Linked DNA regions of Homo sapiens. The protein of the gene in region 3 purifies or fractionates together with the protein of the main gene of each other region. This does not show direct contact. Each region holds a gene or a part of one and is shown on either strand. Other genes may lie near its edges.

Region 1 (8,992 bases), on a different chromosome or scaffold from region 3:
ACTGCAAGCTCTGCCTCCCGGGTTCACGCCATTCTCCTGCCTCAGCCTCCCGTGTAGCTGGGACTACAGGTGCCTGCCACCACGCCCAGTTAATTTTTTGCATTTTTAGTAGAGACGGGGTTTCACCGTGTTAGCCAGGATGGTCTCAATCTCCTGACCTTGTGAGCCACTCACCTCGGCCTCCCAAAGTGCTGGGATTACAGGTGTGAGCCCCTGCACCCAGCCTATCAGCAGGCTCTTAAGGCTACTTCCAGCTACACTTTCTTTCCCCATGCATGCATTTTCCATGTTTCCACAACTTCTTCATTTCCCTTCTGTGGGCTCATAGTGTTCCCTTTGCTTTCATAGGCCACAGTTAACTAGCTATTTGAGACATCAAAAGCTGAAGAAGCCATGGGAGATGGCAATGTTTTCTTCAGATGTCCCTTAAAACGTCATTAAAGCACCCTAGGTTGGCAAAAATTTAGGAGGTAACACAGATACCAAGGTCAACTTCAGCCAGTTTTTCTATTGCTTTGCCTGTTTCTATTGGCTGAATAAGAAGTTCGCCTCAAAGAAGCCCCAATCTAAATCCTTACCCCCATCTCCCAGTCATTTAACAGCAACAACAAACATGCCGGTTCTAGGGAATCTGTGTTTAGCACAATTAAATAGCAAGATGAACCAGACGTGGCCTTTGCTCTCAAGGGGCTTGCTGTCAGGGAGTGGACATCTCAGAAACATTCTAAGGGAGGCATAAGCCAAATGCTAAGAGAGCACAACAGGGAAGCAGCCGGGCCACAGGTGAGAAGACGAATTCTGGGAGATGGAGGTCAGCCCAAGGGCCCACTGCTGTTGTGGGAAACCCAGAATAAGGAAGGGCCCAGCTCTCCAGACCCATACCACTCCCCTCTCCCACGTTTTCTCCAAGATGGTTGTCAGTGCCCTGCTTTTCTTACTGTTTTTGCCTCTGGGGCTCAGATAACATGGAGAATGCTTATCTTAACCCGAACTGCTACCTACCACTCTCAAAAGCCCACCCAAGACACACACACTTGTTCTATCACAAGGCTACTGCTTCTTAACGCTTCTTATTTTAGAAAAGACACCATTAAGTTTACTTAGATTCATAGTAAATTTTTGCAATTAAGAATTATTCCTTCAGTAAAGTTTAAAATCCGGAAGCCCTTTTGTAGTGAAGTTCCTTTTCCCTCTATTTTGGCACCCAGATCATTTTTTTCTTTTTTGAAATGGAGTCTCTCTCTGTCACCCAGCCTGGAGCCCAGATATGTGGTCTCAGCTCACTGCAGCCTTTGCCTCCCAAGTTCAAGTGATTGTCCTGCCTCAGCCTTCTGAGTAGCTGGGATTACAGGCACACGCTACCACGCCTGGCTAATTTTTGTATTTTCAATAGAGACGGGGTTTCCTTATGTTGGCCAGGCTGGTCTTGAACTCCTGGCCTCCAGTGATCCACCCACCTCGGCGGCCTCCCAAAGTGCTGGGATTACAGATGTGAGCCACCGTGCCCAGCTAATTTTCCTAAGTTGAATGTGCATGTGTTTGTGCACATGGATATGTGCACATGAAAGGTTCCCTTCCACATCATCTCCTCTAACAATTGAAATACTCCTGCAGTCTCAGGCATGCTGGAACATGAAACGATTCAGGGCGTGTCTGGGGTGAAGCCCACAGGGTTGAGAAAGCGAACCTCCAGTATCGCCGATGAGGGCACCTACACACTGGACTCCATCCTCCGGCAGCTCAACTCCTTCCACTCGGTCATGTGTCAGCATGGCATGGACCCTGAACTGATCAAGCAGGTGGTCAAGCAGATGTTCTACATCATAGGGGCCATCACCCTGAACAACCTTCTCCTGCGGAAGGACATGTGCTCCTGGAGTAAAGGCATGCAGATCAGGTGAGCAAATGCCAACACCTGCGACAGTGTCTTTTTGCTGCCCAGCTGGCCTGCCAGGGTTGTGGAGAGCTGATGACTTGTTTTCAGTTCTTGCATCTCATGTCTGGTGCCATGTGGCCAAGCAGCAAGGGAGAAACTGGCACGGAGCCACTTTCCCTTGCCTGGCTGGATTTCACCACATCTCATTATTGCTCCCTGTCTGTACCCTGCCAACAGGTTCTTCACATTCTTGATAGGAAACCCTTTTCCACTGTGAAGCTTGCTTATTTGGGGGAGTGAAGAGATGATGCAAAAATACACAAAGATGAGATAGCTGCTTCCTCTCCTTATGTGTGTGTTTTAATTATACAATAAGAAATTATTAAATTATAATAATGAAGATTTCTAATGTTTGATTGCTCTTAGAAATATATTTTTGGAAAAATACCTTTTTGTACCTATGGCAACAAGAACAGGTCTGATAGATCTTTTACTAATTCTTAAAATATCCCCCCTCTATATTTTAAGAAAAGCTGCACTTAATTTTATGCCCAATACTCCTCAGCATAACCTCATTATTGTAACATAATTTTTTTGCAAATTTTTTTTTTTTTTTTTTTTTTTGAGATGGAGTTTTGCTCTTGTTGCCCAGGCTGGAGTGCAATGGCGCCATCTCGGCTCACTGCAACCTCTGCCTCCTGGGTTGAAGCAATTCTCCTGCCTCAGCCTCCCAAGTAGCTGGGATTACAGGCATGCACCACCACACCCAGCTAATTTTTGTATTTTTTGTAGAGACAGGGTTTCACCATGTTGGCCAGGATGGTCTCAAACTCCTGACCTCAGGTGATCCACCTGTCTCGGCCTCCCAAAATGCTGGGATTACAGGTGTGAGCCACCGTGCTGGGCCACAAATTTTTTATTTTAAAACAGCTAGAATATTCACCAAGAGGAGGGAAAAATGATTTCTCCTATCAAAGTCTTAGTAGTTACTCAATCTCAGGAACTGTTAGTGTTCTTTTCAAATTTTCCATCCTGACTTACATTGAAGTGTAGTGAATTTTAAGACAATAATGCCTTCCTCTCAGATAGTGGAGCATATTTCTCTATAAGCTCTGCATGGAAATGTGGAGCCACCTGTCGCAATATTATGCTGGCCCCTATTTGCCTGGTTGCTAAGTGCTGATTGTGTGTCTATTGACCTCAGTCTTAGGACTGCTGCCACTTGGTTGGCTATTTTGTGAAACCTACAATGTCTTTGTAGTTTGTCTCTGTCACCATTTGGAGTCTTTGTCTCTTCCAGTGGCCCTCCCTTGCCTCTCTCTCCTTTCATCCCGGAGCTTTCTCAGGCCACCATCTTCATCTCCTAGGCTCTTCCCTTAAGGCTTCAGCACAGGTATATGTGGGGCTTTTGGTTATTCAGTTACCTGATTTGGAGTTTGCCTTAAGAGAGAGTGCTTCAAGGATTATCAAGTCTCACCCTGCAACAGCAACCCAGCTCTGAAATTGTAAGAGAAGCTACAAAGTGTTTTCTGGCCAGCTCCCCAATAAAGACAGAGCTACATTATGTTATTCTATTTTGTTTATTAGCAAGTCTAATAACTTTTGCCATAATGACTTCATTTCCATCTTCCATTAAAGAGAATTACATTATCTTGTCATTTAGTCTTATATAATGGTGATTATAATCCTCATGACTATAATAAATTTTTAAGCACAGCTGATGAGATTTAAGAAAATTGAACAAAAATACTGCCTGTCATTTTAACATAAATCCTGACAAGGCCGCACACAAAAAAATTAAGACATTTTTGACAAAATTCAGCAAATTTGCATTCTCTGTATCTCTTTTTTTTCATAGGTACAATGTCAGTCAACTGGAAGAATGGCTGCGTGACAAGAATCTGATGAATAGTGGGGCTAAAGAAACCCTGGAACCTCTCATTCAGGCTGCTCAACTTTTGCAAGTGAAAAAGAAAACAGATGATGATGCAGAAGCCATTTGTTCTATGTGCAATGCTTTAACTACTGCCCAGGTAGAGCAACTTTCCCTGTTACAAAATAATTTAACATTCATCAAAGATGATCTTTAGGGAAGTAAAGAAGTCCTCTACTTATTGCTTGTATCTCTGAGCTGACTTCATCTGTGTTCAAGAAGATATATGCCTCTACCAATCTTAAAGCAAGGAGATTTTGCCAGAAATTAATACATTTCAGTGCTAATTACAGTATAAATATATTTAATATTCAGCAAATATTTATTGAGTACTTACAGTGTTCTATATAACATTGAAGGCACTGGGATACACCCATAGGCAAAACAAAGTCTCTGCTCTCATGGAGTATACAGTCTATGCAGCTTATATTCCATAAAATAGCTTTCTATCTTATTTGATAATTGAGTGGATTATCAAATAGTGACTTTGTTTTTAGAGACAGATAATTCTTGTTACTTCAACAGATGATTAATTAAGCCTCCATCTCAAGGCACCATATTTATTGCTGGGGAAGATGCTTCAATAAATAAGGAAAAATTCCTGCCTTCAAGGAGCTTACAGTTCAGTAGGGAAGACAGAGTCGTATCCAACTGACTCTACCGTAGAGGTTCTAGCAAATTCTGTAGTAAGATGCCTAAAGGAAGTACTGAGGGAAGATAGCAGTATTCAGGGAAGGTCCCATTAATCTGGGCATTGAATTTAAGGAAGTGGAAGAATGAGAAGGGCATTTGAGGATTATAGTGACAGCATGAAGCAAGGCACAGGCATGAACATGCCCAATTTTCTTTTGCCCGGTTATTTTCTGTGCTGACTCTTAGACTTTCTTTCTTTTTTTTTTTTTTTTTTTTTTTTTGTGACGGAGTCTCGCTGTGTCGCCCAGGTTGGAGTGCAGTGGTATGATCTCCACTCACTGCAAGCTCCCCCTCCCAGGTTCACGCCATTCTCCTGCCTCAGCCTCTGGAGTAGCTGGGACTACAGGCACCTGCCACCACGCCTGGCTAATTTTTTGTATTTTTAGTAAAGATGGGGTTTCACCATGTTAACCAGGATGGTCTCGATCTCCTGACCTCATGATCCACCCGCCTCAGCCTCCCAAAGTGTTGGGATTACAGGCGTGAGCCACAGTGCCCAGCCAACTTTCTTAATGTTCATCATATATCCTACAACATATGAAATTTTCAGTTTTGCCCAATACAATTAAAACTCAATCAGTTTGAGACCAGCCTGACCAACATGGTGAAACCCCATCTCTACTAAAAATACAAAAATTAGCCGGGCATGGTGGCAGGCACCTGTAATCCCAGCTACTCTGGAGGCTGAGGCAGGAGAATTGCTGGAACCTGGGAGACGGAGGTTGCAGTGAGCCAAGATTGCACCACTGCACTCCAGCCTGGGCAACAGAAAAAATCAGTAGGCCAGGCGTGCTGGCTCACACCTGTAATCCCAGCACTTTGGGAGGCTGAGGCAGACAGATCACCTGAGGTCAGGAGTTCAAGACCAGCCAGGCCAACATGGTGAAACCCCATCTCTACAAAAATACAAAAATTAGCCAGGCATTGTGGCGGGTGCCTGTAATCCCAGCTACTTGGGAGGCTGAGGCAGGAGAATGACTTGAACCTGGGAGGCAGAAGTGGCAGTGAGCCAAGATTGTGCCACTGCACAGAGACTTCATCTCAAAAAAAAAAAAAGTCAATCAGTAGACAATCAGAATCAAGACTTGCAGCTTCTTAATGTTGAATTCATGTTTGCATAACTTCTTACTAAGAATAAAGCAGAACTATCTGACAGAACAATGGTCCTGAGATTTCCTCCCAGTTTCTGCAAGTGTGGAAAGTAAGAATACCCTGGAGGAAGCCCAACTTTATAGAAGTTGGCTGCCATTCAACTTCTAAAGAATATACTTTAATACTTAAATATACTTTAAGCATATTTCACAGAGTGAGGCAGACCTGCAGTTTATTTATTTAGCAAATATTAGTTAACAAAGTGGTCCCACTTTTTAAAATTCAAATACTTGCCTCCGAGAGACTGATCCCTAATTCAGTTTGTCACCCACAGACCTGATAACAACATGCCCACTTTCTAGTTCTCTGGTGCTTAATTTATTTTCCTATAGATCAGCACTGTCCTGCATTCAACTTTTATTTTCATTTTGTGTTAATAGCCACATGTGGCTAGTGACTACTACTGTTGTATTGGACAGCACAGGTTTAGACAATACCTTGAAAATGGAAATATCTACCTTATATAGACGATGATTTATTTTCATTAGAAAAGAGACATGACCATTTTACAAAAAAAAATTATTGAACTTTTTAAAAAAGAACTTCATACTCTCTAATTGATTAATTTCTTTAGGGGCTTTTGTTATTCATGTTATTTATGATCTTTTATAAAAATATGATTTAAAAAACATTCAAAAGAGATAATTGTATTAATACGGCTAACATTTTTATATGGAGAAAAGTTGCAGAATAGTATTAATAGAATGAATCCCATTTGTATAAAAATAAAATGAACTAGAATATTTATAGCAGCTAGAGGGGGTGTTCAGGACATGGTTAACAATTGCCACTTTGGGAGACTGGAAGGATGGAAGTGCGGACATTTATTTTTCATGTTTTATTCTCTTGTGCTATTTGAATATCTTCGAAATTTACACAGCTTCTTACAATATTACACAAACATTACATTGATACATTCTCTTGTAAAAATTCAGATAAAGGTAAATGTGCAGACCAGCTCCTCCTTCCTTCTGGTCCCAGCCCACCCCTGAGTAGAACTGAAATCTGTACGCACAGATCCTTTTAATTTTCCAGATTATAGGTACCCAGTGTGTATTTGATAATATGCCAAAAACTTTGATCATTTCATTTCTCACAGATTGTGAAAGTGTTGAATTTGTATACTCCAGTTAATGAGTTTGAAGAAAGAGTCTCTGTGTCGTTCATTCGTACTATACAGGTAAGAGCTCCCATCTTCTTCTTTGATTCACCAACACAGTCTTTTGAATGGACATTTTGTAATTTATTGAAGGATAATGTGTTATCTTTTATTATCTTATTTTACAATGCACTAACTTTTTTGATAATAGTTAATTGGGAAAATGAAGTGAGTTTAAAACAAAAGTAAACATTCTTCATTAGTTGAGAATTTGAGGGTAGAAATTTTAGTAGAAAAAAGTCTTTTAGATTCAAAGAACTGATGCTCTGTTTATTTTTTTTCCTAATCTTCTCAGATGCGTTTACGAGACAGGAAAGACTCTCCCCAGCTGCTCATGGATGCTAAACACATCTTTCCTGTCACCTTTCCTTTCAACCCATCTTCCCTCGCACTAGAAACCATCCAGATTCCAGCCAGCCTCGGCCTGGGCTTCATTTCACGGGTCTGAAAGTGATGTCCAGGCAAAAATTGACAATACATTTCTTGCCCGAAATAAGAACCCATTATTTCCAGTGAGTTACTGAAAATACATTTTTAAAGAGAAAGTACTGATTATCTCCCAAATGAGAAGTCATTAACTGGAAATCTCCCTAGAATACTTTCATCACTTTGGAAACAAAGATAGGCTCTTTCGTGCTGTGTTATCTTTATAGCAACACTCATCCTTAACCAACTAGGTACCGTGAGTTTACATACAGGAGAATGATGGAAGGAAGGGAGGAAGGAAAGGAGGAGAAAAATGTGTCTTCAGCTGGCAGCATTTATTTTAAATCCTTAGCACTGAGTTTGAATGGTATAAAAAGTATAACTTCCATAGATGAGCTGTTGTTAGGAAGGCACCAAAGAACCTCCTCTGCACTAAACAGGAGAATGGAAAGAAAAGTCTCCATTGAGTACATATCATGTCAGTTTAGTAATCAATTATGTTGATATTGTTAAACTGGTTCAAAGAAATAAACTGGCAATATGTAAAGTAATTCCTCATTTGTGTCACTATGATATAGAGATATTAAAGGAATGTTGGTTTGCTAAATAGTATAGATGTCCATTTGTACTATAGTTTACTGAGCATTTTAAATTGCTGCTACATACTGTCTTCTTAAAATGTAAGTGATATTAGGCACTACAATAAGTTTCTCTTGTCAATTCTGTTTACAATTCAATCAGATCACAGTTTTAACTGGATTATATGCAAATACCTACAGATTCACCTGCACAAGTAGCAGACACTGGAAAGTCATGTAGTAATATGACAAAATGCTTGACATTTAGGGGTAGGATTAGACAAAGTGGCTATTGTTGATGTCATTATTTATTCAGGATGTATTACATTGATGTGCTCATTAATTTTCCCTGGGTGGATATTGCGTCAGGGTACAGTGTTCTGTGAAGTGACTTATTTTTAACTACCAGATCTGATTCCTTCAGTGCATATTTTCAACCTTGACAGGTTTTCTCTCTTCTTAATTTATTAAGAATTAATCTCGGCTGGGCGCGGTGGCTCACGCCTGTAATCCCAGCACTTTGGGAAGCCAAGGTGGGCGGATCACTTCAGGTTAGGAGTTGGAGACCAGCCTGGCCAACATGGCGAAACCCTGTCTCTACTAAAAATACAAAAATTAGCCGGGCGTGGTGGCACTTGCCTGTAATCCCAGCTACTCGGGAGGCTGAGGCACGAGAATCGATTAAACCTGGGAGGCGGAGATTGCAATGAGATCGAACCACTGCACTCCAGCCTGGGTGACAGAGAGAGACACTGCCTTGGAAAAAAAAAGAATCTCACTCACTATCTAGAGAGGATTGTCAGAATATTCACGATTCAGGTCTTGAAACTTTGATTATGCAAAAGAAGGTATATAATAAATATTTCATTATGATTCAGTTTTTAAGGCTTTGCAGCTTCTATAAGTGTTCTCAGATGCCACTAGATAATTTTAAAAGCATCATATTAGAAATACTTTAAGAAGACTTATATAAGAAATAGAAGATTGTTGAATTTTACAGAGGATTTGGTTCATTAAGACCCAGATTCTGTAAGTTTTCATTCTGAAATTCTAGTTAAACATATTCACCATTTTTCTTAGGAATCTTATACAATAAATCCTTCAGGTTGCACAAAAGCAAATTATTAGTTTTCATTAGAAACTCTGGTTCTGAATTACAATCATAGGTTATATAA
Region 2 (8,992 bases), on a different chromosome or scaffold from region 3:
TGTCAGTGGTATATTCGGAGGGGTGGATGCTGAAGGAAGAAAACTAACAAGGGGCATTACGGACGGTTAGGCAGATGAACATCTTTGACTTGTAGGTGGGCATTGGATTTGTTGCACTTTTTAGGACTTGATTACAAATGATGATAATAATAGTAATCTAGAGCCCTAAGCCGAGTGCCCTGAACGAACGATTTCCTGTTTTCTCATTTATTACTCTTGGTCACTGGGGAGGGGAAAACAGGGTGTAATTAGCTGATCTGCACCGGCTGAAAGGAAGGGGATGGAAGTGGGTAGAGTAAGGAAGCCCTCTAAAGGGCTTGCCCACCTCCGGACCGGAACGTGTTGAGTCTGATACTCGAAGTTTGCCGCAGTGTCAGAGATCCTTGAGCCCCAGGTCCTCGGGTGTGCACTGGTGTTAGAAAGAGAAGAATAAATAGGGGACACTCTTTTCAAAGCCGGTTACCAAGCTCTGGTTTTTCTTTTGGGGTTGGGAAAAAAGAAAGCTGGTCACAAACTTTTCTCAAAATGGATGCTTTGTGCATATTAAAGTTTTATAGTAGTCTGATTGGGATCTCTCAATGTTAGCCAAATAAGGAGAAACTATTGGCAATCCAGAGATAATGTTGCCTTGCCTTTAACAGGCCAAAAGCAACACAACCACGTAGAGTTATGCATAAAAAGCAATTTTTAAGTGACGGTAATAGGTGACAAAACATAGGCTTTTTCTATTTTCTTAGCGGGCAACTTGGAATAACTGTAATAGAAAATGACTTTGCAGCGATAGCTTCCCCTTAACAATGAAAAGACTTGTAAGCTATCTCAAAGTTGCCTTGGTTGTGTGTGGAAGATGCATAGCCTTATTTTGAATAATGTTGTAGTAAAAACTTGTTTGGGAGGTTGAAACTCAAGGCTTTATATTTCATGAATATTAACTTGATGCCTTTTAAAAAAAAGGTGTGTAGTGACATTTTTCCTTGTCCTGCTTACTGTTTAAGGGAGTGATGACCATTTTAAATTTTGTGTAATGGAATTCTCTTATCAGACTTGGAGTATAGCCTTTGTTTACAAAGTTGACTGGATATATTGAAATGATTGACACATTGCAGGACAAATATGGAATTAAAAATGTGGCACCCAGTAAAAATATAGCAGGGTGTCTAGCGCTTTCTCAATTTCATTAATTTAGATTCTCTAATGCATAGCAAACTTTTTATTTGGGTGAAGTTTATTTAAGGCATATCATAACTCGTAAAATTTTAAAACCATGGTGTTGAGAATGAAGGAAACTTTTGGCATTAAAAATGATAATGTAATTATATAAGATGAATCTTCAAATTTCTTTCAAGTGTACTTTACACGTTTTAGTGTGAAACAGATTTTGAAAGACGATTATTACTGTAGGAGGTCAGGATAATTGGATAATGGTTCGCATCAATATGTTTTATTCAAATTGTCAAATAGAAATTTAAAGTTACTATTGTTGTGGAGGAACCCAGTTGTATTGGCTTAGAGGAAGACGAAAAGTTTTGATATTTACATTATTGTGATACTGGTTTAGGGAGGAAGAGAAAATACATTTAACTGCCTTCTTAAGATCTTTTTTTCTCCTCTCAATATTCACACGTTACAAGAATTGTCAGACTTACCAATGTCTTCCTGATTAACTGAATTCAGTGGTCAGTTTGGTGTTGTGTAGATATATCTTTATTGGGTATTTTGTTTTAGTTGACAAACAGAAGTTTCTAAATTTACTCCATTTGCGTAATATCTTTCTGTCACTTTTTGTCACTGTGAGTGTGGGTTTGACCCGATAATCTCCAACCGCCTCCCCTTTTCCATAACATTTTTCCATATCTGCAAATGCCTTAAATCGGTGAAGCCAAAGTCTTTAAAATATCAAGCATTAAAAATTTGTGTTATGTTTTCTTCACTCTCATTTCTTATTTATCAACTCTTGTACTTTTTTCCCATTGTTACTATGAAAACAGGGAGTTCACTTTGGGCAAATTTAGGACAACAGTTAGTGAAAGACAATAAATAAAATTAAAAACCACACACACACAAGAAAATTTTAAGCCTTTAAGAAATCTCTTGAACTTAGCTTGTTTTCCATACTTAATTGTAAAAACTAAAATCACTGATTTAATAGTCCTTGAATAGTTCTTTAAAACTTTAACCTCTCAAAAGATCGTAGAATACCTAAAATGTATAACGGGGTTAATTGTTGATTGTTTTTTGAATATTCATTTACTTTCTGGTTTTGATCAAGTGTTCTAAATTTCATTGTCAAGAGAAAAGTTTTAGGAACATCACAACCCACAAATATGCTTTTGAAAATCGAATATTTTGCTTTTACTTTAAAGAGCTTATATTTAAAGGTTTATTAATTTGTTGAATGTGCTACCTCATTAGAAGTTATAAAAGATATCCAGTCTTCAGCTGTTCTTTTTGTATAGAAATGTGTCCTCTGTATAGAAGAAAAAGCAGCGTTTCTTGTCAAATTTCCTATCTTAGTCTCCAGAGTAGCCTTTCTCCCCCACCCACTCTACCCAGGACCTGACCCCCAAAGCTACAAAACAGCACAAAGTTAACCATAGATACAAATTTCTGGTTTTTCTAGAACCGAGGTCTAGAGTAGAATTTCATTATTACCAATGGGGCAATAATCAGCTTCTGATTTTATAGCTACCTGGTAGAGTTTTACAGTATGTGATTATATCTCTATTTTAGCATATTTTGTAAAGATTTAAGGAGATTAATAAAGTTATATATAGAATGCCTTATTGCTGATTCTTACTGATACTGGTGTGCATAAAATACAGGGCTGAGATTTTTCTCCAGCAGTTTTGAGTTTAGCCTGTTGATTTTAGCCTTAAAATCTTTTCTTTTTCCTCTGTGCCAGTGACTTCCAAGTCAGTTTACAGTTCCCTCATTTCTGCAAAGCTCCAAGCCTCATTTCCATTTTTTGGGGTTATGTATTGATTTGAAATGAAATATTAAATGTATTGTAATTTTATATTTAATAATGTCTTTTAAGTAGTAATATAGTAAATACAAGTTCACCCCCTTTGCCATAGAATGGCAACTACTGTATTCACGTTAACCTTTGTGATTTCTTCAAAGGATTTCTTATTGTTCAAATATAGATTTTCATAGTTGCAATTCAGTATTATAATTTTACGTTTATCCGTTAACATTAGAGATACTTATCTTTAGACTTTACCAGCATCCTTTTTAACTAATTATTTTAAAAGTATTATTAATTTGGTGGTAAGACAATTTTACATCGTCAGGAATTTCTTTAAATTCAACCTAAAACAGGTCTATCTTTCTTCATCAAGTCTACTCTTCTCATTGATGTTCCTGTTTCTGTTAATGATGTATTAATCTTTAGAATCAAGTTAAACATTTTAGTTATTGTTTACTCATTCCCCTTGTCTATGCATAATCCAGTCTGTCTTCTAGCTCAGTCTTTTCTTTACAATTACCTTGGCATCAGTTCTTTTCTTTGCCACTTTTTACTGGCAACCTAGTTCATACCTTTATTATTTTATTTTATTTTATTTTTTTGAGATGGAGTTTTGCTCTTGTTGCCCAGGCTGGAGTGCAATGGCGCTATCTTGGCTCACTGAAACCTCCACCTCCCGGATTCGAGCGATTCTCCTGGCTCAGCTTCCCAAGTAGCTGGGATTACAGACGTGTGCCACCATGCCCAGCTAATTTTGTATTTTTAGTAGAGATGCGGTTTCTCTATGTTGATCAGACTGGTCTCGAACTCCTGACCTCAGGTGATCCACCTGCCTCGGCCTCCCAAAGTGCTGGGATTACAGGCGTGAGCCACCGCACCTAGCCTTATTTTTATCCCTAGAGTATAGTAATAGCTTAATTGTTTTTCCTGCCTCTATTCTCTCCCTTATTTAATCTAGCATGCATATTGCTGTCATATTAATCTTTGAACAGTATCATTTTGATGGTGTTATTCCTCTCTCTAAATTTGGATATAGTACATTTTATCATTTAGCTTATGGTTGATACATCTCCATTGTGTTGTATCCTTTATAGAAATTGGTTAACTTGCTTACGTTTCAACTAGATCTTTACATTTTTTATTTCCATGCCTTTAGCCATGCCTTTTATCCTCTCTCCCTCGTTTGCCAATTAAAATTCTAGTCATTGTTCAAGATTCACATTCTCTTTTCTGGGGTGTTCACTGTACCTTATATTCTGCCTCTCCTGCAATAAAAACACTTTTTACTGAATAGTGTTTGTGTTTGTCTTCCCTTGTAGCCTCTGAGGACCTAATCTTCCACAATTTTTGTATTTCCAGAGCCTAGCACATAGTAGATGCTCACTAAAGGTTTATTGAATTTTTATCTTTTTACCTCATCAATAGGAAGTTTTAGAGTTATTTTTATGTTGTGAGATATATTTTTGAAACCTTCGCATCAGATACTTAGCGTATTGTTCTTGCACATAATGGAATTTGTGTGATTATGAAACAAATTAAAAACTTTGTTGTAGATTTCAATATATTTTAATATCTTGAGATTTTAAAAAAATCTTTTTTTTTTTTTGAGATGGAGTCTCATTCTGTCACCCAGGCTGGAGTGCAGTGGTGTAATCTTGGCTTACTGCAAACTCCGCCGCCCAGGTTCAAGTGATTCTCCTGCCACAGCCTCCCAAGTAGCTGGGATTACGGGTGCGTGGCACCATGCCTGGCTAATTTTTTTTGTATTTTTGGTAGAGATGGGGTTTCACCATGTTGGCCAGGCTCATTTCGAACTCCTGACCTCAAGTGATCCGCCCGTCTTGGCCTCCCAAAGTGCTAGGATTACAGGTGTGAGCCACTGTGGCCGGCCTAAAAAATTCTTAATATCGACCTCCTTTCTATTAAATTTTAAAGCAGTCTAGATATTGGTTAAGTGGTAGAAAAATATTATATCCAGTTGAGTCACTAATTAATTACTCACTTTGTAAGAGTCTGAGCTAGATCCTCTAGAGCGGGGGTTCACAAACGCTGGGCCGTGGACAGGTCGATCCACGACCTGTGAGGAACAAGGCCACACAGCAGGAGGTGAGCGACACACTGGCAAGCTAGCATTACTGCCTGAAATCCACCTCTTGTCAGATCAGCAGCGGCATTAGATTCCCATAGGAGTGCGGACCCTATTGTGAACTGCGCTTCTGAGGTATCTAGGTTGTGTGCTCTTTATGAGCATCTAATTCCTGATGATGATGTGAGGTAGAACAGTTTCATCCGGCCCCACTCCCCAACCCACATCTGTGGAAAAATTGTCATTCACAAAACTAGTTCCTGATGCCAAGGTTGGGTACCACTTCTAGAGGAATACAAAGTAGAATTAGTTCCATGTTCTATGCTATTAGAATTTTAAAATAGTTTTTCTTTTACTTTCCAAAACAGACAGACTTACAGATAGGTTTAATATGAAATCCTTTTGCTTTTAAAATACAAATTTGATCTACTTCTAAGGGAGCCATTTTAAGCATCTTTGTAAAATATGTGATCCTCTCGTCAGTAAAGGGAATACTTTTGTGTAGTCTTCTTAAGATGTGAAGTGTAAAAGAGACTGGAAGCAATTAATTTTGAGTTGCTTGTTAGCAAATAGTTTGATTACTATGTAAAATCTGAATTAAGAGTTTATAGTTTGTAACTGTTTACCCTTTTTTTGATGGAGAATGTTAAGATCTTGGAAGAACCTACTGGATAACTTTTAAAGAGCATTAAAATTTGTGTCTAAAAGAATGTGCAGTGTAAAATATTTCTCTGCATAGTTTTCTTTTTAGAAAAGCTGTAACACTTTATGCTCATGCCTTTCAAAAGTTTTTATTGAAATCATCCTAAATCCATTTTTAAAAACCTACCTAAACAAACAAATAAAACCCTCCCAACCCCAAACTGGCCCCTCACTTCCTACAAATAAGTGGGCAACCCTAGCCATATATGGGGTGTGCTGGTAGGGCACCAGTGCCCACACTGCTGCTGTTCTAATGCTTTTTCTGTAGTTGCTGCCTCTGTGCTTCCTGGCAACACTTTTGTGGTCTGACTTTGAGGTGTCATAACCAAGACCATCTTTCATGTGCCTCAGCTACAGTATGATTGCAAGCTGTGACTGAGCATTTTCTATAGCCAGGTAGAAACACTGGATGGAATAGAGGAAGTGTTTTTCATCATCCATTTGTTATTACCACATTTAAAAATTACAGTTCACATAAGAAAAGTGTTTTAAAAATCTTATTAGATGATTTTTAAAAGAAAACTATTTAAAAACCTTTTAATAGGGGGAGGCATAAAACGTTGTTTTGTTACTACCATAACATGTTACTTCTTGACACTATATGAAGTTGCTATTTTCATTGCCTCTGCCTGCAAAAAATTGCCATCTTTTACTCCACCCTTCTTTTGAAAGTTTGTGGGGCTCCACAATAAGGTTGAGAAGATGATGAGGTATTGGCATTTTGGTATACCTCTTTGAAAGGTTGAAGAACTCCAACAATTATAAGTTTATTCTCAGTTGGAGTCAGATATGTAGTAGCCATGACTTAATCAGTGTTTTATTGAGGAGCAGTGCTTTTCCAAACAATAGTTTAATTTTCACAACATGCTTTTTCACTTGCTCAAAGTTAACAAGAAAATAAATGGCAGAGCTGGAATTCTTATGCAGGTCTGTTTGATGCCGAAACTCAAACTTTACCCTATGCCAGGTATCTTCTTTGAAGTCTGAAGAAGAAAATATTCTTAAATCTTTTCATCATTATGGTGGTGTTTAGTAATTGGAGGTTTCTCTGTAAATTAGCTGAAAATCAAGTGAAACACACATATAATTTTTTTCTTCATCCACATTTGTTTTAGCTAGCCCATACTTTTAAGACCTTTCTATGGTAATTGAAGTGCAGTAGTACTGTATCTAAATTAATCTCAGAATTCGAAATTGTCCTAAATTTTAGGAAGTGCCAAGATTATTTTTGACTTACCATTATGTGCAGAATATATCAGCAGCAACAAGAAACACTCCTTTTTTCAGGACATAGAATTTAATTTTTAACTACCTTTATTTTTCTTTACCCTAATAGCAATTTATATCGTTTCAGTTGTTGGGTGTGTGTGTGGGTGTGGTGTGTGTATGTGTGTTTTGAGACAGGGTGACAGACTCTGTCACCATGGCTGGAGTGCAGTGGCATGAACATAGTTCACTGTAGCCTTCCTGGGCTCAAGTGATCCTCCCACCTCAGCCTCCCGATCAGCTGGGAATACAGGCATGTGCCACCACTTCCAGCTAATTTTTTTTTTTCTTTGACAGAGTCTCCCCGTGTTGCCCAAGCTAGTCTCAAACTTCTGGGCCCAAGTGATCCTCCCACCTCAGCCTCCCAAAGTGCTGGGATTACAGGCGTGAGCCACTGCACTTAGCCTGTTTTAGTTTTTTTTAATCATTTACAGTAAATTTTTTATACATACGTACATGTACATATTTGATTCTTTTTAGAGACAAATTGTAGGAAACTTCATACCATGGATACTGGGGGTGGGGGGGAAGAAGTCCCTTATATACCCTTAAGGTAGGGACTTTGATTCTTTTTTTCTTTAAATCTCCTTTTGTATCGGCATTTTGTTTTAGTAGGTACACAATAAATATTTAATGATTAAAAAAAATTGGACACAATGTAAACTAATATTTTGAAGAGCAGAATTCATAGAATATTAAATAATTGGGTAAGTGTAACACACTGACAAACTTTTAAAATGTCCTAATAAAAAAGCTTATATCAACCACTTACTTTTATAATACTTACAATGTAAAGGTAGCCATTATTACAATCAAAACATTTATTAGGTGGCTGGGTATGGTGGCTCACGCCTGTAGTCCTAGCACTTTGGGAGGCCTAGGCAGGCGGATCACCTGAGCTCAGGAATTTGAGATCAACCTGGCCAACATGGCAAAACCCCATCTCTACTAAAAATACAAAATAAAAATTAGCCAGGCATGGTGGCGCATGCCTGTAATCCCAGCTACTCAGGAGGCTGAGGCACGAGAATCGCCTGAACCCAAGAGGCAGAGGTTGGAGTGAACTGAGATCATGCCTCTTCACTCCAGCCTGGGCGACAGAGCGAGATTCTGTCTTAAAGAAAAAAATTATTGGGATGTTAGATTTATTTTTGAAATGAGATCTATTACTGATTATCAATAGACGCTTCAGTTTATGTAACTTAGTTTAAAAATTCTTTAAACAAATCCTTGAGTGTTCATTTAGAAAAGTAATCTCTAGGCTGGATGCAGTGGCTCACACCTGTAATCCCAGCACTTTGAGAAGCCAAGGCAAGAGACTTGATCCCAGAAGTTCAAGACCAGCCTGGGCAATATAGGGAGACGGTGTCTCTACCAATAAAGAGAAAAGAAAAGAAAGAAAAAGAAAAGAAATCTCTAGCATGGTAATATTAGAAATAATGCATATTTTCTGTTATTTTACTGATACTTTTTTTTTCCAAATAACATTTTTACTATGGCTCCCTCTATGTCAGTATTTTCTGACCTTATTAGTGTTTTGGTTGTTTATCTTTGCATTGTTATGCTGGCTAACCATAAAAAGACACGCTTGAGTTCTGTGTTACTGCCCTAAGTGTGCTTGCTGCTCAACTCAAATGCTCTTTCATGGGAGGAGACATTCCACATTGTCATGTGTTGTATAGGCATTTCTGAAATGACATTCAGTAGAAACCATGGAAAGAAGTGAAAGCATTCCTCAGCTGTCACTTTTTTAGTAGTCTATTTAAATGTTATGTATATTAAGTGAGATATTCTGCAGAGAGAGCTTCACTTAATAAAAAGCTTTACTTTAACTTGATGATTTAACTCACATTTGAGCTGAAATTACTATTTTCTTAGTTTAACATGACCTCTAACAATAAAATCATAAGATTGTACAAAGCTCATGTCATTTTCTTGAATACTGCATAGTGCAGAGGAGAATACATTTT
Region 3 (8,992 bases):
CTTGGCCTATTCTCCTCTCCTGTCCCTGCCTGCCTTGGCATCTATGCTGCCAGGCCCATCTTCTGAGCCCCTCCTCTGTGTGTGCCAGGCATGGCAGCACTGAGCTAGGCTAGGGGAGCGAGTGGAAAGATACAACACATGCCCGCACACACAGCGCACAGCCGCAGTCTGCTTCATGGGCTGACAGAATCAATGCTTGTGTCTGTCTGCTGGAAGACAGGGACCAGGATCCACTCATCAGAGGGGAGTCCACAGTCCCCACAGAGGGCCGGCATGTGTGGGAGGTTAGGAAATGTCAGCACTGCCCTGAAACAAATCAGGCGTGGCCCTTGCCGAGCACCTGGCACATAGTAGGTGCTAAATAAATATTTGTTGAATGGATGAATTGTTAGGTAAGTAGAAATAGATAGATAGGTAGGTAGGTAGGTAGGTAGGTAGGTAGGTAGGTAGATAGATAGAGACAGATAAATAAATGGGTTGACAGATGTGTGGATTGGATGAGTGGATGGGTGAGTTGGTGGATAGATGGATTGGATTGTATAGATGAATTGAATGGATGGTTGAATGGATGGATAGATGGATGGATGGTTGGAATAGATGGATGGACGGATGGATGGATGGATGGATGGATGGATGGATGGATGGATGGACGGACAGACGGACGGACGGTTGGATGGATGGATGGATGGATGGATGAATGGATAGTTGGAATAAATGGATGGATGGATGAATGGATGGATGGATGGGTGGATGGACGGACGGATGGATGGACAGATGGAATGGATGGATGGATGGTTGGAATGGATGGATGGATGGAATGGATGGATGGATGGAATGGATGGATGGATTGTTGAATGGATGGTTGGATGGATGGATGGATGGATGGTTGGAATAGATGGATGGATGGATGGGTGGATGGATGGATGGATGGATGGATGGATGGATGGTTGGAATAGATGGATGGATGGATGGGTGGATGGATGGATGGATGGATGGATGGATAGATGGATAGATGGAAAGGATGGATGGATGGATGGATGGATGGATGGATGGATGGATGGTTGAATGGATGGTTGAATGGATGGTTGGATGGATGGATGGATGGATGGATGGACGGATGGATGGATGTTTGGAATAGATGGATGGATGGATGGATGGATGGATGGATGGATGGATGGAATGGATGGATGGATGGATGGATGGTTGAATGGATGGTTGGATGGATGGATGGATGGATGGATGGATGGATGGATGGATGGTTGAATGGATGGTTGAATGGATGGATGGATGGATGGATGGATGGATGGATGGATGGATGGACGGACGGATGGATGGATGGATGTTTGGAATAGATGGATGGATGGATGATGGATGGATGGAATGGATGGATGTTTGGAATAGATGGATGGATGGATGGAATGGATGGATGGATGGTTGGAATGAATGGATGGATGGATGGTTGGAATGGATGGATGGATGGATGGTTGGAATGGATGGATGGATGGAATGGAAGGAGGGATGGATGGATGGATGGTTGAATGGATGGATAGATGGATGGATGGTTGAATGGGTGGAATGAAAGGATGGATGGTTGTAATAGATGGATGGATGGATGGTTGGAATAGATGGATGGATGGATGGATGGTTGGAATAGACGGATGGATGGATGGTTGGAATAGATGGATGGATGGATGGTTGGAATGGATGAATGGATGGATGGATAGATGATTGGAATAGATGGATGGATGGACGGTTGAATGGATGGATGGATGGATGGATGGATAGTTGAATGGATGGAATGGATGGATGGATGGTTGGAATAGATGAATGGATAGATGGTTGGAAAAGATGGATGGATGGATGGATGGATGGATGGATGGATGGATGGATGGAATGGATGGATGGTTGGAATAGATGGAATGGATGGATGGATGGATGGATGGATGGAATGGATGGATGGTTGGAATAGATGGAATGGATAGATGGATGGATGGATGGATGGTTTGATGGTTGAATGGATGGATGGATGGAATGGATGGATGAATGGAATTGATGGATGGATGGGATGGATGGATGGATTGATGGATAGTTGGAATAGATGGAATGGATGGATGGATGGATGGTCGAATGGATAGTTGAATGGATGGATGCATGGATGGATGGATGGATGGAATGGATGGATGGATGGATGGATGGATGGATGGATGGATGGATGGCTGAATGGATGGTTGAATGGATGGTTGAATGGATGGATGGATGGATGGGTGGATGGATGGATGAATGGATGGATGGATGGATGGAATGGATGGATGGATGGTTGGATGGATGGTTGAATGGATGGATAGGTGGATTAATTGGATGAACTGGATGGATGAATGGATAGATGGATGGACGGAGGCCATTTGAGGGCAGGGCTGAGCCTGGATCATTCATACACAGGCCCTGCACTTAGTAGTTGTTTGGTCATTGGGACCACTGTAGAAAGGAGCACAGCAGAGGCCCAGTGGTGAGCAGGTGCCCGCACCCACACTAAGAAGAAGGCTGAGTCCACAAATCTCTCCCACCCAACAGCTTGGAGTGGAGTAACAATTTGCAGCCACTCCTCAGAGCAGGAGAAAATTACATCTCATACAGTGGCTCCACAAGGAGGCAATCGTGTCCGACAAGAGCCTTCTGGGATGGCAGCTTGACTCCCAACACCAAGAGGGTAGAGAGTGGAAGGTAAAGGTCAGTGATAAAAATTCCAAGGCACCCCTCCTGGTTCTCATGCTGATGCAGGGCCACAGAGCTGCACCCCCCTTTCCTTGGTAGACGTGCTCCCACAGGGCTGAAGAAGTGCCCATTCATTCATTCATTACTTCATTCATTCAACAAATAACTACTGAGCACCTACCATGTGCCAGGCGCTGGCTGACACCAGCTATGAGCAGATATGTGGTCTCTGCCCACGTGGAGCTCATAGGGAATCCCACACATCGTGGCCTCACAAACTGTGCTTAGGGCTTGACGAACAACCTGGGGTATTGACATCTGAGAATGGGACCCCGCTTTCTCCCTCCCAGTCACTTACAACACATTCCAGTCAGCTTTCTCCCTCTTCTCCGCCCAAACTGCCCTTCCCAGGGTCACCCACAATGATCTGGCCACCATCACTTGTGGTACCTGCTATGTGGCGGGCACAGTCCACACTCTCTCCCTCAGGCAGCCTCACCCCTGCCTGCAGCCCCAGCTCCCTCCAAATACTGCAGACCCCAAATCTCCACTTGGTCCTGCCTCCCCCACTGACCTCCAGCCTTACACCTCCAACTGCCCACGTGACGGTTCCATTATAGGTGTCTCATCCCCACACACATCTCCTTAGACCTCTCCTCCCCAAGTCTTCCCCAGCGTGGGGAGCAGCCCCTGAACTCACCAGAGTCACAGTGGCCATGACGCCTCTCTCTCCCTCACCATCCCCCCACCAAGTCCACTGGGTCACCAGGCTTCATCAGCTCTATCTCTAATATGCACCTGGAATCTCCACTTCTCCCCTCTGTTCTGCAAATCCCTAAGGAGCTCAGGGCCCCGGTGGGTGTAGGGCAGGTGGCCCCACCCTGGCTGCTCATAGGGGACAACACGTCTGGCTGAAGGACCTGCAGGAGCCAAGGCCTAGAGGCAGGCCCCGTGTAGAGTGGTGGGCATGGCAGGCGCTCAGCAGGCGGGGCGGGACGGTGTGGCATAAGCTCGGTTTGACACTGAGGGTAGTGGGAGACAGGTCAGTGTGAGGGGCTGGGTCCTGCCACAAGGAGGGGAGGTGCTGGGCTCATGAGGCCGAGATAGCAGAGACTCAGGTGCGAGGGGTCCTGGAGGTGTGGGAATCAGCTGACAGGGTGCGGCCAGAGGGCGCTGGTGCTGTTGGGGACCCTGGTCCCAGCCTGAGCCCCGGGGTGGCTGTGAAGCTGTTTGCAGGAGGAAGATGCAGCCATGGGGTGGACAGGAAGGCCATGTGGTATGGGAGGTGCCAGGACAGGGGTGGACCCCAGTCGCCTTGGAGATGGCCAAGGTCCTGGCAGTGGCCAGGATCCAGTGGTCCTGTAGCCCTAGGGGCCCTGACTGCAACCAGGCCGGGTTCCTAGCGAGGCAGGGGAAGGGCTGTGGGGTCTGGAGGGAGGCAGGAAGGGTTCCACAGAGTCATCCCTCCCTCCATCCCAGCAGCCAGCCCCAGGATGAGAACAGCATCCCAACCACAATCCCTAGGAGGGAGAAAGGCAGCAGAAGGGGTCTCCTGCTGGGGAAGGAGGGTGCCCAAGAGGGCTTGGCTGCCACAACGCCCTTCGGGGTCCTCAGCCGCCCTAAGCCTTGGGCCTGGAGCAGTGGGTACAGGGTAGCAGTCTGAGGCTGGCGCAGGCCAGGCACTGGGGGCCACAGGCAATGACCCCTCCCACGCCCCCTCCACTTAAGGTGGCTGGCAGAGTCGGCACGATGGCTCCTCACCACAGGCAGGCTGGATTGGGGCCTGCAGGAGCTGTGGAGGGTGGCTGCCATCAACGGAAAGGGGGCAGTGCAGGACACCCTGACCCCTGAGGTAAGGCTGGGTCCTCCTCAAACCCGGACCCTCAGACCCTCTCCCTGCCCCTGCATAGGGCACCCTGGGAGACCCACCAAGGACCTCAGCTCCCTGGGAAGAAGGTCTCAGAGAGGAGGAGGTGCCTGGCGCCCCCAGTGCCAACAGCACCCACCCCCGCCTCCACAGGTCTTGCTTTCAGCCATGCGGGAGGAGCTGAGCATGGGCCAGCCTCCTGCCAGCCTGGGCACCCTGCTCCGCATGCCCGGACTGCGCTTCCGGACCTGTATCTCCACGTTGTGCTGGTAGATGCCCTTCCCCCAACCCCACCTCCACAGGGGAACCTGGAATCGGGGCTCTCGCTGGCACACGGCCCCGGCCTCTGCTGGCTCCGCTTGGTCCCACTGGCCTGCAACACCGACACCTTCCCCTCTGTCAGTCACTCCCGACAGGAGACAACCCAGGCCGGGTGGGCTCACTGAGGGGGCCTTAATAAGGGGCAAGGCAGATAAAAGAGATGCAGTAGGTAGGATCCCTAACAAAGCTCCTGGGAGGGCTGGGAGCCAGGCATGACGAAGGGGTGATCCAGGCAACAGCATGGGCCGCAAGCACCCCTGCCTGGTGTGGGGCCAGGGAGGGCGGAGAGGGCTTATCAGAGCCCAGGACCCATGGCCATCCAGCAAAGACCAAAACCGCCAAGGCCAAGGAGGGAAGGACTGTTCAGTGGCAGCTGGAGCCACGGAAGGGACATAGTCACTCCCAGACAAAGCCCCCAAGCAGAGAGGGAGGCAGAAATCCCCTGCTTCTCCCCTCCTCCAACCTCTTGCCAGCACCTCCCATCAGCCAAACCCAAAGGGAAGCCATGCTGGCAAGGGGACCTGATAAACATAGTCTAGAGACTGGCCCCGCCCCACAGAGCTGGCAGCTGAAGGGCCAGAACACTGAGCTAAGAGCAGCACACCCCCACCCTGAGCCCCCACCGCCCATTGTTCCCACCCTGCCCACCACCCCCCCCCACCCCCCACCCCCACCCTGACTTCCCTGACCCCTGCCCCAGGTTCGCCTTTGGCTTCACCTTCTTCGGCCTGGCCCTGGACCTGCAGGCCCTGGGCAGCAACATCTTCCTGCTCCAAATGTTCATTGGTGTCGTGGACATCCCAGCCAAGATGGGCGCCCTGCTGCTGCTGAGCCACCTGGGCCGCCGCCCCACGCTGGCCGCATCCCTGTTGCTGGCAGGGCTCTGCATTCTGGCCAACACGCTGGTGCCCCACGGTGAGGGGGCAAAGCTGTACACCAGAGACTTCCCTACCTTGGGGGGGTCTCGGGCTGGGAACAGCACCCCTCCTTGGAGGTGCTGGACTAGAGCAGGTACCCTGGTAGGAAGGAGGCTGCCGGAGCCGTCTAGGGACAGACGGCAGTGTCTGCACTGAGCCAGCAAGAGCGGTGAAGGAGTGGCATGGGTGGCACCAGGGAAAAGTGTGGAGTTAAAATGAGAACTAAGTGATGGATTGCAGGAGGAGGGAAACGGGGTCAAGAAGGACTCCTCGGGGCTGGCTCTGGGTGTCTGAGCGTGGAGCAGATTGTGGGTGTGGCCATGAGGCCACTCAGGACAGGATACCCAGATGGAGATGACTCCCAAACATTTACAAAGAGGCCTGAAAGTCAGGGACAAGCCCCCTGGGCTGAAGGGAGCCCTCATCTGATCTTGGGCCCCCCACCAAGCTCACTAATCCCATCTCTACCCACAGAAATGGGGGCTCTGCGCTCAGCCTTGGCCGTGCTGGGGCTGGGCGGGGTGGGGGCTGCCTTCACCTGCATCACCATCTACAGCAGCGAGCTCTTCCCCACTGTGCTCAGGTGAGGCTGGGCCTGGGCTCCAGGAGAGGGGAGCCCTGGGCTGAGCTGCGGGGCACCCCCAGGCAGGACTGGCTTCTCCCAGACCTAGATGTTCATGTCATGCATCTCCCTCTTGTGTGGTCCCCGGGGCTGCTCAGGTGCATCCCAAGCCCAGCCTGACCCCCTGGGTCTCCCTGGGCCAAGCGGGCCTGGCCCGGCGTGCAGGATCAAGGCTGTGGGCACACAGACCAGGCGCTTATAGGTGCATCTGCATTGGCAGGATGACGGCAGTGGGCTTGGGCCAGATGGCAGCCCGTGGAGGAGCCATCCTGGGGCCTCTGGTCCGGCTGCTGGGTGTCCATGGCCCCTGGCTGCCCTTGCTGGTGTATGGGACGGTGCCAGTGCTGAGTGGCCTGGCCGCACTGCTTCTGCCCGAGACCCAGAGCTTGCCGCTGCCCGACACCATCCAAGATGTGCAGAACCAGTGAGTGGACCCAGCCTCGGGACCACCCCTCCCTCCCACCAGAGAACCCTAGCACAGGGCAGCCTGCTCACCCATCCCCATCACTTGACAGAGGCGGAAGCAGAGGCCCAGACAGATAGGATTGGCCCAGAGTCACACAGTACATCTCTGGGAGAGTGGCAACCCAGGGCTCAGTCTCCGGCTGGCAGTGCTTTGACCTAGGGCTTTGTCCTCTGCCTTTCACTCCACCATTCAAGGCACAAATGGACAAGCTCCCCCAGGTCCACCCTGAGAGAGGCCAAAGGGAGAAGAGTGGATAGTCCTTTGTGAGAGGGAGATCCAGCCATTGTTGGGGGCCCTCGCAGGCCCCAGATTCTACCTCTAAAGCCCTGATGGCTGGCAGGGCAGTCACTTCACACACACCCCCAACCCATCACATGCTCGGGAGCTCAGTTCTGGGCCCCCGAGAGCAGGGTGGTGGCATTCCCTGGAGTCCTTGGGATGGACACAGGTCAAGGGTCAGGGGCCACTCCGCACCCCAAGACACACCCCCGTGTGCTTCCTGAACAGGGCAGTAAAGAAGGCAACACATGGCACGCTGGGGAACTCTGTCCTAAAATCCACACAGTTTTAGCCTCCTGGGGAACCTGCGATGGGACGGTCAGAGGAAGAGACTTCTTCTGTTCTCTGGAGAAGGCAGGAGGAAAGCAAAGACCTCCATTTCCAGAGGCCCAGAGGCTGCCCTCTGAGGTCCCCACTCTCCCCCAGGGCTGCCCCTCCAGGTGAGCCCTGCCCCTCTCACAGTCCAAGGGGCCCCCTTCAATACTGAAGGGGAAAAGGACAGTTTGATTGGCAGGAGGTGACCCAGTGCACCATCACCCTGCCCTGCCCTCGTGGCTTCGGAGAGCAGAGGGGTCAGGCCCAGGGGAACGAGCTGGCCTTGCCAACCCTCTGCTTGACTCCGCACTGCCACTTGTCCCCCCACACCCGTCCACCTGCCCAGAGCTCAGAGCTAACCACCATCCATGGTCAAGACCTCTCCTAGCTCCACACAAGCAGTAGAGTCTCAGCTCCACAGCTTTACCCAGAAGCCCTGTAAGCCTGGCCCCTGGCCCCTCCCCATGTCCCTCCAGGCCTCAGCCACCTGCCCGCCACATCCTCTGCCTGCTGTCCCCTTCCCACCCTCATCCCTGACCGACTCCACTTAACCCCCAAACCCAGCCCCCCTTCCAGGGGTCCAGGGCCAGCCTGAGATGCCCGTGAAACTCCTACCCACAGTTACAGCCACAAGCCTGCCTCCTCCCACCCTGCCAGCCTATGAGTTCCCAGAGGGTTGGGGCAGTCCCATGACCCCATGTCCCAGCTCCCCACACAGCGCTGGGCCAGAGAGGCATTGGTGCGAGGGATTGAATAAAGAAACAAATGAATGGCTGCCCCTCACTGACTCAAGTGATGAGCCCCCAGGGTCCTCCCGGGTCGGGGGAAGGAGGAAAGTGCTGGGGGCTGCTTTCTGGGGTGGGTCTTTCCCAGGCCAGCTTGCCTGCCCCAGGTGCCAGGCCAGAGTGGCTGCTGTTTCCAGCGCCTGTTGTGGGCCCGGTGCTGTGCTGGACACCTCAAAGCATCATCTCACTTCACTTTTTCCTGAATCCTGTAGGGCAAACATTGCCCCATTTTACAGATGAAAAAACTGAGGCTTGAAGAACCTGATTGCCCATGACACTCAGCTAGGTGGGGGCAGTATCAGGATTCAAACCCATCAGTAGGCCTCCAGAGCCCCACTCTGGCCACAACAGCCCCAGCCTCTCCCAACCCAGCCTCACCATCTGGGTGTCCAGTAACTCTCCTGGCAGCGGCAAGGCCAGGGGCCCACAGTGTCCACAGGCATGGCTCGCGGGGAAACGCAGTGCAGCGCACACAGAGGTCTGGGTGCAGGTAGAAGCCATTTGCTGCCCAGCCGGGTCCCAGCCAGCCAGCCCAGTCACCTGAGCCACCCTGGGGCCATGCTCAGATGGTCTCTGGGTCCACCTGTGCCTGCCTTGCTGCTTCCAGGCACCTTGGCCGAGGGCAGTGCCCTACCACCCCTACACACACATTAGCCGTGTGTGCACACATGTGCCCACATGCACATGCACACATATGGGATGGGAAAA
Region 4 (5,612 bases), on a different chromosome or scaffold from region 3:
ACCGCCCTGGGACCAGCGGCAGGGGCTTCCCTGCAGACCTTCCAGGACCCATATCCTCACCTGTAAAATGAGTATCTTGTGTCTGCCCTGCCCCCTCCTGGAGGTTAAGTCAAACCACAAGGTAGGGGTGAGGGATGCTGACGGCCATGGGGCCCTCCCTTGGCCCCATCCTTGGCCCCCCCATCCTTGCTTCTGGGGCTCTCCACGAGGTAAAACCTCTCCTCTAGTGGGGACAAACCCCTCCCGCCCACACCTGCTGGACCCAGATTCATTCAAGCCCTTACTCAGCAAACATGCACGGAGCGTCCTGAGTCTTCCTGAGGGGCTCAGGGGGCTCACGAGGCAGAAACCAGCCCTCAGCCGATTCTGAGGGTCTGTCTCGTCCCCCAGTGTGGACCCCAATGACTCCTCTGCCATTCCCATCCTGGGGCCCGCAACCTTCCTGCGTGGACCTTCCCATGCATGGTCTAGCCATGTGCACCCCAGTCCCACAGCAGGAGGGTTGCAGCCGCAACGTCCTCACGCAGGGAGTGATGGCTTTGTTCCAAAGCTGGTCCTCAGGGTCACAGTGCCAAAGCCCTTAACATTCACCTCTAGGGCTCAAGGGGCAGTTCCTCCATTCCTCAGCAGTGGCGCCGGTGGAACTGTGTCCTGAGGCCAGGGGGTGGTCAGGCAGGGCCTGGAGTGGCTCCAGCCCCAGAGCCAGCTCCACAGTCCCCACAGCCACCCATGAGGAGCCAGTGCCAAGGAGGCTGTGATGGGCCGGCTCAGGCCAGGCCCCCACCCTTCCCCTACTGGGCTCCTCCCTGGCCCTTCAGAGGCAGAGAGCCCCGCGGTCCTGTGTCATCTGTCAGGTGCTTTGGCCCAGGTCTCCAGCGCTGCCATTGCCCAGAGACGGCACAGGCCAAGCTGTCCAGTTCAGGGATGGGGAACGGCACCTGGCAGGGCTGTCCCCAAACTGCCTGCCCCACAAGCCAGCTTGTCTTCTCCAGGGAGGGGCCTGTGTTCTCGGCACCACGTGCCTTAAGGCCACCTCCTCAGTCTTGGCCTTGCTGCCCCCTTGCCAGCCCCGTACCCACCTCAGCTGAGTGCTGTCCTCAGATACCAAGGCTGTGGGGCTGGGGGAGGTCCCTGTGCAGGTGCCTGGGCTGCCCGCCTCCCCCACCCCCAGGCCCAAGGGAGCAACAAGGCTGAGGGGCAGAAGCTCTCCAATTGCAACCACTGCCCTTTGGTGGGCACGGGGAGGCCCCTGGCAGGCCCCAGCTTCTGGCTCCAGGCGTTGGTTTCCCTGCCCAGCCCCAGGCAGGCTTTGAAAAGGCTGTGGGCGCCCACCCTTCCTTCCATCCAGGCTCCAGATCCTCAGGCCCGGCGGCGGCGGGGCCAGCTGGGCCTCCCCAGCTCCAGGATTCCGGCCCTTTGTTCCTGCCCAGGATGCACCTGGTGGCCTCTGGCCCTCATTGTTTGCTCTGAGGCCAGCTGAGCTGCATCAGGAGCAAGACATGCCAGGCCCAGGACAAGCAGCCAGTGAGCAGGGGAAGGGTCCCTGGAAACCAACTGGGTCACCCTGGGTGCTCCCCAACTTCTCCAATGGGGCAGGGACCTCACAAGGCTCCAGTTTATCCTAACAGAGGTCCTGCAAAGGCAGAAGAAACATACGGAGGAAGTGATCTCCGAGTCACTGGTCATCATCCTCCAACTCACCCCACCCCACTCAAGATGTTCACCCCATATCTGCTTCTGGGTGTCAGGACAAACAGCAACCCGCTAGCAACCCGGCCTTGGGGATGATCGGCGTAGATGTGAAAGCAGGCCCTGAGGGGAGTGGAGCCCTGGCTCCAGCGTGGGCAGTGACAGTCCTCTGCAGCCCTCATGCCGGGGCTTGCCACTCATCACCCCGATGGCTCTAAGCCACCTGCCCGCTCTCCCTGTGGCCCCAGCCCCATGACCTGCCAGGACTGTACCCCATGTCAGAGTGCCTGATATGAGGGCCCAGAAGGGGGCCCTGCTTTGCAGAGGTGGAAACAAGCCCAGCACATCCCAAGTGTCGGTGGCTGACCTGGGGAGGACCTGTGTGTCCCGACTCCTCAGTGCTCTTCCTGGCAGAAGTCTTGGGTGCAACCCAGCCCTGCGATGGCCTGTCCTTCCCCTCAGGGCACACCTGCTTCCTGCCTGGTGGGTGCCTGCCTTGGCCCTTCTTTTCTGCTTGGCCCTTAAGACTGCAGACCCCCTGCCACCCCTTCCTCACAAACACGGGAGGGTGCAGACAAAAGACCAGACCTTTCAGCACCTGCTCTGGGCCTGGTGCAGTCAACTGGCAAGCTGTGCCCGGTCTCTCCGCACCCCTCCCCCTGCCTCACAGCAGGCTCCCCGAGGCACTCCCAGCCTGAGAGGGCTGGTCAGGTGGAGTCCTCTCCTGTCAGGCAGGAGAGATGGAGTCCTCTCTTGTGCCCGGCCCAGCTCCTGTAGATGCCCAGTAAGGTCCAGACCTGTTGGGGTCAAAGCTCCTGCCAGAATCCAGATCCCCGAATCTCAGCAACCCAGGAGTCTGTCCTCACTCACCTGATGTACGGGGAAGTGGCTGCGAGCATGTTGAGACTGGTTCTGTCTGCCCCGGTCCCTCACCTAAGGGACAACCTAAAATAGAACCCAGGCTACCCCGAGGTTGCACGAAGTGCCGGCCCCGTGGGGCTGGGGCCATAGAGCTGGCCAGGCAGGGCTGCTGGGGCAGGGCGTGGCGTCTGGGCACAGGACCGCAGGCCCTTGAGGGTGCTGGAGGGGTGTAAGGGATCCTTCTGGAATCTCTCCACTCTCCCTGGAATCTCTCCACTCTCCCTGGAATCTCACAGCTTCCCCCTTCCACCTATTAAGCTGTCCCTGAGATCCTGGAACTTTGAGTCAAGGTATAAACGATGCCCTCCCCATAGGTGCTGCCCTGGGAAGCAGCAGAGCCAGCTCCAAATTGAGGGGCACAGCACTGTGGACGGGCCCCGCAGGCCCGTAACTTGGGACAGAAGGATCCCCTCAGGGCCACCCTAATCAGCATCCAAGGCAGCTGCACTGCAGGCGGGACGGATGGAGGATCTGGGAGTGACCGCCCCACCTGGGAGTGGTGGCTAAGGGGTCTGTGCTGCCCAGGACAAGGCCCAGGTGCGCTGGCAGGGACGGCAGTCCCCTGCTGACGTGTGGAGGCCGCTGCACACAGGGCCCGCCCGGCAGGCTCCATGGATGCTTGCTGACCACTAGGGCAGAACCCCTTCCGCACAGCAGAGGACACAACGAAGGGGCTGCTGAGCAGGGAGGAGCTGAGTCCAAGCCCAGTCCTGCCCCAGTCCTTTCACGCCCAGCTCCCAGCTCTACAGCTGTTGCCCACTGCCCACCCCAGGGTACCTGCAGCTGTTGGCACCCAGGGGTGCAGCTCCCAAGCACTTGCAGGTCACAGTGCAACTCCTGGCTTACTCAGGGCCAAGGCAGTTGCTGGGCTCCCAACCCTGAGGAGTCTCCACCTGGGAAGGGCATTCACTACATGCCCTCGTGTGCAGGAAGCACCACCACCATGGGCCTTTTGCATGTGACGTGGACAAGGTGGTAAGTGTTCTCCAGGCCAGCTCAGTGCATTCACAATCACTGTAGTGACTCACACCTGTAATCCCAAGGCTCTGGGAGGCCAAGGCGAGAGGATTGCTTCAGCCCAGAAGTGCAAGACCAGCTTGGGCAACATGGCGAAAAGCCCATTTCTACCAAAAAAAAAAAAAGAAAAAATAAATAAACAAACTGCTGGAGATGGTGGCACACACCTGTGGTCCCAGCTACTCAGGAGGCTGAGGTGGGAGGATTGCTGGAGCCCTGGAGGTTAAGGCTGTGGTGAGCCGTGATCGACCCCGTCTCGAAAAAACCAACAAAAAACAATGCACAGGCAAAAAAGTTTATCTGGTTGCCTCTGGGTAGGATACCTTTTTTCTTTTTCTCTATTTTATACATCCTGACAATTATTTCCAAGATGATACATGCCTCAAAACAAACAAAACCCCTCGAGACACACTCCCCAGCCCCCAGGGAAGGCATGTGTCTGGGCTGTGTAGGGGCTTCCGCTCTCCTGGGGGTAGCTCTGCCACGGTCTCTGGGGTCTTGGCATCTGTCACAGAACCCTAGTGGTTACAGGGCTCACTGTCCCACAGCCCCAGGCCACACGGTGATGTGCTGTGGCCCAGGGGAGGCCACCCTGGACTCCTGGTCAGGATCTGCCCACATGAGGAAGTGCGCCTTGGGGTAGGGCCACAGGCTGGCTCAGAGGTGCCCTTCTCTCCACAGCCAGTCCCAGGAGGGAGCTGGGTTCTGGTTTATGCGACGTCAGAGGGACGGCAGGGAGTGGAGGGCAAGCTAGAAAAGCCCAAGCTTGTTGTTTCAGCCATTTTAATACATTCAAGAATATTTACTAGAACAACATTTAAACGTATCGTCGGTCCGCAGAAGCCTGGGATCGAGAGAAATAGAAACGCGACTGGCCCTTTTGCAGTAAAGCTTGTGCTTGAAGGGAGAAGAGGCAAAGTGGCTTCTTGGAGACTTCGTGCCAGATGCCACAGGACTGAGAGCATCTCCAAATGTCACTTTAAACACGTGTGAGCATCTATAGTCATTCCTAAAGCCCACAGTGTCCTAAGGATCCTATTAGACGAGGCAAAAGGCAATGCTTCTGGAACCCTCTCCCTTGCAGCTCTGCACGCAAACCTTCCCCAAGGAGGGGCCCGAGGCAAGCCTCTAGATAGGCGGGGCCAAGCCCTCCCCGTGCCCACCCTCTTTCCCTGTTGCTGACCTCAGGCCTGATGCTGGACCCATGAGACTCCCAGAGGGAAAACACAGATACAGCCCATCCATCCATGGCCACCTTCCTCCAGAAGATCCTGGGGACCCCTACCCCCCCATCCCATGAGGCACCAGGGCTGGGCTCGCATGGCCAGCAAGGGATAAAGTTGGGAACTGCAGACCAGGGGAAGCCCCCTCATTCTTAGGGCAAAACAGCCCCTGAAGGACAAAATAAATAAACCAAACCATGACCAGACAGCTGGATCCGGACAGGTGGAGTGGCCTCTGTGAAGGCAAATGAGAGCAAAAGTGGGAACTGAGGACACCTAAGTGGAGAGACACTTAAAAACAGTAATTCTCACATGAACATCAGTGGCTCATGCCAACAGCAGAGCTGGCCATCAACAGAGGAACAGCAACAAAAACACAACTCAGACAGGGGGCGGGACGGGGCCAGGAGTCTGCGGGGGTCTCTGATATGCTTTGTGGCATGACTTTGCTTGCCTGGCCTCTCCTTTCTTAGCTGAAAACAGGCATTTCACCAAAGGGCATCCAGCCAGCGGCAGCAGCCTGAGCTCCCAGGCTGACATCTGGGCAGGGCTGATGGGCAGCTTCTGGCCATCTGGTGACCAGGTGTGCCGCCAGCTGCACCCACATGCACAGCCCCTTTCCTAATAACCACATTCTAGGTTACGTAGACACGTTAAACTCCTATTCTAGAACATCGTGCTTGAATGCAGACCCCTCAGCCCACAATCGGGCTGGCTGGGCCTCCTGTGAGCCCCTCATTGCATCCAGTCTGTGGGGCAGTG

The links.
Region 1: the proteins of SLC22A12 (region 3) and MYO5A purify together in Homo sapiens (affinity purification with mass spectrometry; one large-scale study listed by BioGRID and IntAct). This does not show direct contact.
Region 2: the proteins of SLC22A12 (region 3) and PPP1R12A purify together in Homo sapiens (affinity purification with mass spectrometry; one large-scale study listed by BioGRID and IntAct). This does not show direct contact.
Region 4: the proteins of SLC22A12 (region 3) and SPECC1L purify together in Homo sapiens (affinity purification with mass spectrometry; one large-scale study listed by BioGRID and IntAct). This does not show direct contact.

What each region holds. Positions count from the first base shown.
Region 1 is NC_000015.10:52,311,965-52,320,956, reverse strand, and holds part of MYO5A (unconventional myosin-Va), read left to right. Parts: intron 1-1,614; coding exon 1,615-1,897; intron 1,898-3,734; coding exon 3,735-3,909; intron 3,910-6,753; coding exon 6,754-6,834; intron 6,835-7,108; coding exon 7,109-7,261; 3' UTR 7,262-8,992. UniProt on the Homo sapiens protein: Processive actin-based motor that can move in large steps approximating the 36-nm pseudo-repeat of the actin filament. Can hydrolyze ATP in the presence of actin, which is essential for its function as a motor protein. Involved in melanosome transport.
Region 2 is NC_000012.12:79,925,351-79,934,342, reverse strand, and holds part of PPP1R12A (protein phosphatase 1 regulatory subunit 12A), read left to right. Parts: intron 1-8,992. UniProt on the Homo sapiens protein: Key regulator of protein phosphatase 1C (PPP1C). Mediates binding to myosin. As part of the PPP1C complex, involved in dephosphorylation of PLK1. Capable of inhibiting HIF1AN-dependent suppression of HIF1A activity.
Region 3 is NC_000011.10:64,594,076-64,603,067, forward strand, and holds the end of SLC22A12 (solute carrier family 22 member 12), read left to right. Parts: intron 1-4,440; coding exon 4,441-4,564; intron 4,565-4,732; coding exon 4,733-4,848; intron 4,849-5,600; coding exon 5,601-5,815; intron 5,816-6,291; coding exon 6,292-6,400; intron 6,401-6,659; coding exon 6,660-6,863; intron 6,864-7,412; coding exon 7,413-7,476; 3' UTR 7,477-8,269; downstream 8,270-8,992. UniProt on the Homo sapiens protein: Electroneutral antiporter that translocates urate across the apical membrane of proximal tubular cells in exchange for monovalent organic or inorganic anions. Involved in renal reabsorption of urate and helps maintaining blood levels of uric acid.
Region 4 is NC_000022.11:24,416,035-24,421,646, reverse strand, and holds the end of SPECC1L (cytospin-A), read right to left. Parts: 3' UTR 3,909-5,612; downstream 1-3,908. UniProt on the Homo sapiens protein: Involved in cytokinesis and spindle organization. May play a role in actin cytoskeleton organization and microtubule stabilization and hence required for proper cell adhesion and migration.